Regions from separate parts of the Homo sapiens genome. Here region 2 is linked to region 1. Evidence: fine-mapped expression QTL. A gene starts in region 1. The other region holds a variant in brackets. All regions are shown on one strand. Distances are between the middles of the regions. Region 1 holds the start of LINC03100 (long intergenic non-protein coding RNA 3100). Region 2 overlaps LINC01237 (long intergenic non-protein coding RNA 1237).

Region 1 (4,388 bases):
CTACAATGATTAACTATTTTAAATCTTCCCTTAATTTCTATTTCATGTGGTAGGACATGTGGGTGGGGTACTTCAGTAGAAAATGACTTCATGAAGTTCATTTGCTGGTGGAAACTCTTGGCATGAGAGACTCAGAACAAAAAAAAAGTCTTTCCTTCAACAAGCATATTTTTTCTTTACAATAATAATGGCAAACATTTATTAGAGCTTACTATAGGCTATGCATTACTCTAAACAATCTACATATGTTGTCTCATTTAATCCTCATGCTGTCCTCCAAGATAGAAAACATTATTCTTGTTTTACAAGTTTCATTATCTATTTTATAGATGAAGACACTGAGGCAAAGAGTTCAGTGGAGCTGGGATTCAAAATGATGGAGTCTCACTCCGGGATCCATGCTCCTACCCACTATGTTTATAATAGCAGTTCCTGAAAACCCTATTAAAACAGATGCCATTAAATTATAAGCCTTTTAACTTTTTTTTTTACCGTCTATTACAGATCACTAATATGATTTCAAGTAATGATGAATCTAAATATAAAGGCACTAAAACAAGGAAAACAAGACAGGAAAGAAAACTCTAATCCATTTTAAAAGACCACATGTGTTTCCCTATTTGTTTTGCTTAAAAGTGTGGACAAATTTGATCCAGAAAGGACATTTAAAAAAATGGCACACTGAGGGCTGAGAGTCAGAAATAAGATTTACTGTAAGGACTTACAGATAATCACAGATTCCTCATGGGAAAGGTAAACATGTAAAGACGAGGAGAAAACAGAATATGAAAGAGTAAACGTCTTTTTTGATTAGGGCCGGATGGTAAGGATTTGGAGGCAGCAAGAGACAGCTTCATAAGGGAAGAAATGGTTCTCTAGATTCTTTAGTCTTCAAAATGAGTTTGAATAGACCCAAGGACAGAGGTGGAATCTAATTGAGAAAAAGGTCAAATTGAGCTTACTGTGAGGGGAAGGATGCAAAATTAGTGTCTGCTGCAAGAAAAATAAGCATGGAAAGAAATTAAGGGAGGAGACAGAGACAGAGCCAGAGCCACAGACCAGGAGTAGGGAAAAAAAGGTAAGCAGCAGACGGGGCAGAGTGGCCTGGAGGAATGAGGGGTCACACCTAGCAGGTGCCCACCGGCGAAGAGGCAAGGGCCGAGCCCGGAGGGCAAACGCCGGCAGGAGTCGTCCCCGAAACACCTTGCCCAGCGAGGCGGACACAAGCTCGGGCCTGCAAGACGGCCCAGGAGGGTGGGGGCGGGAAGGGGTCGCAGAAGGTGGGCAGGGGAAGCGGCTGAGGACACGCGATGCACCTGTGGGCGGTCCCCGTGCCCACCTGACTCGCCCGCAGCTCCCTGAATGAACCCTCCACACCCGCCGGCCGCCCCCAGACCCCACCTGACGCGCCCGCGGCCCATCGTCCCTTCCTGACGCGCCCGCGGACCCAGACCTCAGCAGACGCGCACGCGGCAATCCCGTCCCCATCTGACGCGCCCGCGACAACCCCGTCCCCACCTGACGCGCCCGCGACAACCCCGTCCCCACCTGACGCGCCCGAGACCCCCGGTCCCCACCTGACGCGCCCGCGACCCCATGTCTTCCCCTGACGCGCCCGCCGCCCCCGGTCTTCACCTGACTCGCCCGTGGCCCATCGTCCCCACCTGACGCGCCCGCGATCCCCAATCTTCACCTAAGGCGCCTGCGGCGCCCAGTCTTCACCTGACGCGCCCGCGGCACCCCGTACCTACCTAGCGCGCCTGCAGCCCCCAGTCTTCACCTGACGCGCCCGCGTCCCCCAGTGCCCAACGGGCGCGCCTGCCACCTGGGCCGGCACCTGACGGCGACCAGGCGATTATTGCCGGAAGTGGGCCACCGCCTCTCGGCGCGCCTCAGGGAAGCCCCGCCCCTGGCCATGCTGATTGGCCGGCGCGGATTCGCGTGGCAGTGTTGCTGCCGGGTCCTGACGCCCGCAGCGTGCGCCTGCGTAGTAGGCACTGCCCCGCCGTCCGCGCGCGCCCAGAGTGCCGGGCGTGGAGGTGTGGGGGCGCGGGGGCGCGGGGGCGCGGGGGCGCGGGGGGGCGGGGGCGGGGGGGCGCAGGGACGGGCGCGGTCAGTGCCTGAGATCCCTGCGATCGCTGGGAGATGACGGTGAAGACCTGAGATTTAGGCCTGCGCGGCGGGTGACGACGCCGGTCCGGGTCTTCACTGGAGGACGCTGGCCGGGGCCTTCAGGTGTTCTCGTGGCCTGAGGACGCGCGTCCCTGAGAATGTGCGTGCCCGCGCCGCGCGGGTCCCACAGGAGCCTGGGCAGCCCCGCCGCCGCATTTCCACCCTGCGGCCGTATTTCCACCCGCTGGGCGCCAAGCCCGGGATGACTGCACTCTAGGGCATCACTGCGCGCTCACACTCAGCATTCAGGCACAAGCACGTTCTCTTTATAAACAGTTTCGAATCTTGTCGAGTCTTTCTAGAAGGTTGAAATGCCCTGGAGGAGCAGCGTGAATAGTTTTTTCCAATTAGGAAAAAAGAATGTGGGGCGGCTGGAGGGAGAGAGGCAGGCCGAGAAGGCCAGGTGCGTCCAGGAGCCGCAGCCCCCGTGCCTCAGTTTCCTCCTAGAAACATGGAGGTGGCGGTGCACGCTACAGGATTTCTGTAAGAACAGATGAGTTAACGTGTGCAAAACATTTAAAACAGTGTCTGGTGTGTAGCAAGCAAATATGAGTATTAGTCTTTTCCTTGTTAAAATGTGTGCATCTACATTTGGTGCACATTACAGGAAGTGTATAGTATGGATTCATATTTTGGAAAAGTAATTTTAGAAGTTATTTCTGATGTGCTTATTGTAATAGTGTTTCTTGACCACATGCTTTTAGATAATGTGAAGGCAATGAAGCAGGCAATATTGCTTGCACATCCCCAATTTAAACACCTGTCTGTCCCTCCTTCCCTCTCTCCTTTCTTTTCTTCCTTACCCTCTCTCTTTATTCCTTCCTTCATTCCCTTCAAGGTTGCGGATTATTCCATTATATAAATGTATCAATTTATTAGAATAGTTTCTATGATGTCTATGATGGGCTTTAGATTGTTTGCAATAGTTTGCCATTACAAATAATGCCCAGTAGTGCTGTGGTTTGATTTAACTTGTGAAGGTATATTTCCAAATAAATCGCTATGATTGGATTGTTGTGTAAACCAAAAAGTGTCTGAGGCAGATCACAACTGATATAGAGGTTTATTTTGCCAAAATTGTGGATTTGCCTGGGGAAAAAGAAACACAGGTTACAGTAGGATTTTTGGCCTGTACTTTTTTCCAAATATTTAAGGGAAAAGCGCCGGTAGGAGGGGAAAGAGGGGAGAGTAGGCTATGAGGCAAGTGGTCACATTTTTGTGAGGCTCTGATTAGAGTACAGCAAATCTACATTTCACATGTGAAAAGAAAGGTATGGGGGAGGGTTATACATCTGTCTCATACTCAGTAGATCTACATTTCACATAAGATAAAGTAAGCTTTTGGGAACAAAAAGAAGGCATGTATGTGTGTGTGTGTGTGTGTGTGCGTGTGTGTGTGTGTGTTGCCAATATTAACTTTTCCCTTTGGCATAGTAAGTTTGGAGGCCTGAGATTTTATTTTTCTTTCACTGATGTGTCAAGATTAACTGCATATGGAATACTAGTAGAAATTGCCAAGCCAAGACCCCACCACCACAATAGGGGACATAGTAATATTAAATTTAGCCCAATTGGCCAGCATCCACACAATTCCTAGTGAAAGAATTCCTGGCTGGATGGTAAAGAGGTAAACTAACTGCAGAAACTCACAAAGCAACAAAAGAAGTCCACAGAATAAGAGCAGGAATTCAGAGAGTAACCACAGAGAGATCCACAGAGTAACAGCAGGAATTCACAGAGTAACAGCAGAACCCACAGTGTAACATCAGAGCCCACAGAGTAACAGCAGAGCCCACAAAGTAACGTCAGAACCCACAGAGTAACAGCAGAGCCCACAGAGTAATGTCGGAACCCACAGAGTAACACAAGAGCCCAGAGAGTAACAGCAGGACACACAGAGAAATAGCAGGAACCCACAGAGTAACATCAGAGTCCACAGAGTAATATCAGAACCCACAGAGTAAAAACAGGACCCACAGTGTAACATCAGAGCCCACAGAGTAACAGCAGGAATTCACAGAGTAACATCAGAACCCATAGTGTAATAGCAGAGCCTACAGAGTAACAGCAGGAACCCACAGAGTAATAGCAGGAACTCAGAGTAACAGCAGAAACCTACAGAACAGGATCAGAAACCCATGGAGTAACAGCAGGAAGCCATGAAGCAGTTCTGTCCAACTTAGGTCAGCATATTCATGGTCTTGGGTCTTCTTTGT
Region 2 (4,388 bases), 180 kb after region 1:
CAGAACCCCAGCAATGTGTGCTGTTAAGATCATTCCAGTTATGCTTTGATGGACTCACACACGAAAATGTCAAGGACAGTTTTCCTTACATAGAATAAGAAAATATCATGCTCTCTGCTCACCTACATGTAGGCACAGCTTGGCTTGGTCTTTCCACAGACGAGACCCCTATATAAGAAAAACCTAAAGCTGGGGCGTTGCTTCTCTTGCTTTCTGAGGGTGCCCTATCTGCAATGAAGTAGTTTTCAATAAACTTCCTTCTCTCACTGCACTCTGCAACTCGCCTGGAATTTCTTCCCACGAGAGATCCAAAGCCCTCTCTTGGGGTCTTGATTGAGACCCTTTTTCCAGTAACACTGAGGCTCCATTTCCAGTCATGGCAAAGCAGCTCATGTCAGTCCAACACACCACCTACATCCCCTGGACAGATACAGGCACCAACCACCAGAAGGTACCGGGCACAGCCGGAAGCAGAAAGAGACTGAACAGGCGTCCGTACTCGGAGGAAAGCCGTGGCGCCAGGCAGATTTCCTTTTGTAAGGCATTCCACTCGAGAGCAGCTGGCCCACGCAGGGGAGCAAAGCCTCGGGTAGGAAACCACCGTCCCTCCGGCATGAGGACCCAGAGAGCAACGGGGTGACTGTGGCAGCCAGGGAGGAAAGAGGAGTTCCTGGAAAGGACAGAGCCAGAGGGGACCCCAAAATCTGCATTTCACTCTGCCTAGATCTCCTGGAGACCTGGCCCACACGTGTGCAGGACTTTGTGCCGCCTGAAAAGAACCGATGAGCGGCACCAATGGTGCCACCGTAGGGGACAGAGCCTAGCGTCTGCCCGACTAAGCAAAACAGAAATCTGTCTGACAGCCTGGGGACCGGAAGTCTGAGGTCAGGCATCGGCAGGGTCAGTTCCTGCGGAGATGTGAAAGGGAATCTGCTCCCGGCCATGCCCCAGCAACCCTCTGTGTTGCTTTTGATGGGGTTCGGGACACGCTACCCCAAAGTATGGCACCTTGGCACTGTGAAAACAGCAGAAGCAGGAAGGTCTCTCTCACCTCCCCTCAGCCTTCTCCCCTACAGCAGGTCCCCAAGACCCTGATGTGAGACGCCCTCCCGAAACCCGGGGAAAAGACACGCCCTTCTCTCTGAAGATACAGGACACAGAGAACTGGTGTTGACAGCTGACGTGATGACAGTTCTCGTCTTCTCAGTTCAAAAGAATTTAAACAAGAGACACACTGCAAAAGAAGTGCAGCACAGAGTAACTTATTGCAAAAGAAGAAAAGTATTTTGCAGGGGCTCACGCCTGTAATCCTAGCATTTTAGGAGGCCGAGGTGGGCGGATTACTTGAGGTCAGGAGTTTGAGACCAGCCTGGCCAATATGGTGAAACCCCATCTCTAATAAAAATAGAAAAATTAGCCAAGCATGGTAGCAAGCGCCTGTAATCCCAGCTACTTGGGAGGCTGAGGCGGGAGAATCACTCAAATCCGGGAGGCAGAGGTTGCAGGGAGCCAAGATCATACCACTGCACTCCAGCCTGGGCAACAAGAGCAAAACTCTGTCTTTAAAAAAAAAAAAAAGAGTATTTTGAAAGTGAGGTGCAGAATAGACAGGCCACCCTAAGGGAGAAAGGACTCAGGGTGGGTCATGAGGGTGAGACAGCAGAGACCGGCCATAGGGAGGCTGCCTTTATGGGAGTCTCACCCGATGATCCATAAGAAGATGGGAGAGGTAGCCGGGCATGGGGGCTCATGCCTGTAATCTCAGCACTTTGGGAGGCCAAGGCGAGTGGATCATCTGAGGTCGGGAGTTCAAGACCAGCCTGACCAACATGGAGAAACCTCGTCTCTACTAAAAAAAAATACAAAATTAGCTGGGCATGGTGGC[G/A]CATGCCTATAATCCCAGCTACTCAGGAGGCTGAGGCAGGAGAATCGCTTGAACCTGGGAGGCAGAGGCTGTGGTGAGCTGAGATCTCACCACTGCACTCCAGACTGGGGATAGATCTAGACCCCACCTTAAAAAAAAAAGAAAGTGGGAGAGGTGTTATCAGGAAGCACAGTCTGGTGGTCGTCGGCACACATGCTTGTTTGTAGGTGGTGTGTCTCATTAGCATCTTACATCTCCACCCAGGGGTATCTTTTTCACTGTTATAATGAACAAAGGGTTGGTTCGAGGACAGGTAAAAATTAAAGTGTGCGTGCTCTTTAGAAGAGAGTCCCCGCTGGAGATAGCTTTGCTTGCGTGAGCTCAATTACAAAGCAAACACTGAGGTTTAGGTGGTGGCTGTGTATAGTCAACACAGTCATTTCCCTGCTCACCTATCCCCTCTCCCCCGGGCACACAGGCCGTGCTGAGGTGCCCAGTTCACCCATCACATCACAGCCTCCCGTCCTCATCCACGTTTCCCCACGGCCATCCCCTCTTCATCAAGCCAAAGCACAAACACACAGGTCCACCTGGCTCTGGGTCTTCATTTCCTTACGAAGGCTCCAAGTCACATAAAACTAAAATACATTTGTTCGCTTTTCTCTGGTGAATCCGTCTTGTTTCAGGAGCCTCAACCCTGAACCTTTTCTCTCTGCACTTGGAGTGTAGACGCGTCCCTTCTTCTCTCCCTCCGGCTTCACCGTACCTTCCCTGTGTGTCTGTGCACACATTTCCCCTTCTTAAAAGCATGCTGGTCATTGGATTTAGGGCCCACCCTAATCCATCATGAGGTCATCCTAATGCATAACATCTGCAATAACCCATTTCCAAAAATGTCTGTGTTCACAGGTTAGGGCTTGAACATATTTCCTAAGGACACTATTCAGCCCTCCACAAACACCAGCAGCAGACTAAGCCACGTTCAGGTCGTGTTGAGGTGGGAAATTAAAGAAAAATAAAATTAAAAAGAAAGAGAAATAAGCTTTCCCGTATTAGGCTAACTTGTCCTAGAGGCAGCAACAAGCACAGCCCAAACCCAGGAAAAGTCTTAATAATAATATTATCTAATGTGCTCTGGAGACTCTCCCAGCACTCCCTCAATATAGGGAGAAGAAAAACAAATTTTCCTTTGTTTTATGGAATGAGTTTATAAATTCCTGTTCTCTGTAACTATTGACTTCAAGCATTGTTTTATCTAAGCAGTAAAGTGAAGGTCATGAGCCTCTGAGCAGGCCTGAGTTACGGCCACCTGGGCAACATAGTGAAGGTTATGGGATAAGCCCGTGCCCAGGTTAACCTAGATAACGGACATGTGGGTTGCTTGGCAACAGTCATGTGCAATCCTGAGTTTGTCCTGCCTCTGTATCCCTGCTTTCACGCCACTGTAAGCTTGCTTCAAGCTAGCCCACCCCCTTTTGTGAAGTGTGTGTAAAAGTCAGGCGCTGTCTTTGTTCTGGGCCCAGTCTTTGGACATTGAGTCTGCTGGGTCTGAGTGCACTCAATGATAAAGATATCCTCCTGTGTACACTCCAAGGTCTCTCTCCGGTCCTCCTGATCCTGCAACAGTGCTAGGTCTCCCTAAAGGCCATCGGGCCCCTGGGTGGACCTTGGAGTCTTGCTCATTATCTCAGCCATGCTGTGCACATGACTGTAGTCCCAGCCTGGCCCACCCTGGGATGACAGGAGCTTCCCCCGGCGGTCCGTTTCCTGCACTGGCCCCCCCACAGGGATGTCTCCCAGGGCTGCCTGGACACGTCTTCACATTGGCTGAGGGGTCCCTCAAGGGCAACCAGACATGGCTTCTAGTCTAGTACCTGTTCTTCCCTCACAACATGAGTGAAGGATTTTAAACCTTCAAAGCCATATTTGCACTTACCTAACCCCTTAATCCTTTTCCTTCCGTCCCCCGTCCTGGAAGCCCCACTCAGTGTGTCAGGGGATTTCACCACCGAGGCACCTGTGGGCTGGGACCTGGGAGCTCTGCGTCCCCCTCCCCACACTCAGTTTCACTATGGCCAGATGCTGCCTCCGATGAAAGAAAGGGAGCCCATGGCAGAGCGTCGAGGGCGCCAGGGTGGCCACACAGGCCAGGAGACCAACCTCTAACCCTGATCTGACACAGGTCTAAGGGGAAGGTCATGAAGAAGAAACACAGCTCCTGAGAGACGTTTGGGGAGAACGAACCAGGACTAAACTAGAACTTACTCCGTGCAACCAGGGCCTCTCGGGAAACACTCAGGAAACCCTGGGCTGGCAGAACTAGTGGCGTCTTTGGGGACGGATCCCCGCAGGTTGGGAGTCCACGGTGCAGGGCCTGCATGGGGGACCAGACACGGCCACACCAGACGGGGCCCCTCTCAACGTTCAGCTGCTCAAGAAGGAGAAAAAGAGAAGGATTCTAAATGACGCACTGCCCTTCACACTTCAGGGTGAGGTTCCCGGCCCACTTTGTATTATGATTAAA

The links. PIP is the estimated chance that this variant, and not a neighbour inherited with it, causes the effect.
Region 2: its variant is fine-mapped to the expression of LINC03100 in lung (GTEx, PIP above 0.99). The same link has a PIP of 0.9 or more in vagina and whole blood.

The regions. Positions count from the first base shown.
Region 1 is chr2:242,086,165-242,090,552 of GRCh38, reverse strand. It overlaps LINC03100 (long intergenic non-protein coding RNA 3100), which reads left to right and starts at 1,988. Exons shown (of 1, transcript NR_186294.1): 1 at 1,988-3,202. LINC01881 (long intergenic non-protein coding RNA 1881) reads right to left here and starts at 1,920. Exons shown (of 7, transcript NR_130702.1): 1 at 1,752-1,920.
Region 2 is chr2:241,905,359-241,909,746 of GRCh38, reverse strand. The region is part of intron 2 of LINC01237 (long intergenic non-protein coding RNA 1237); the gene reads right to left. Among named protein-coding and RNA genes, the nearest start is that of FAM240C, 7.1 kb to the right of the region's middle. The variant G/A (reference allele first, on the strand shown) is at 1,886.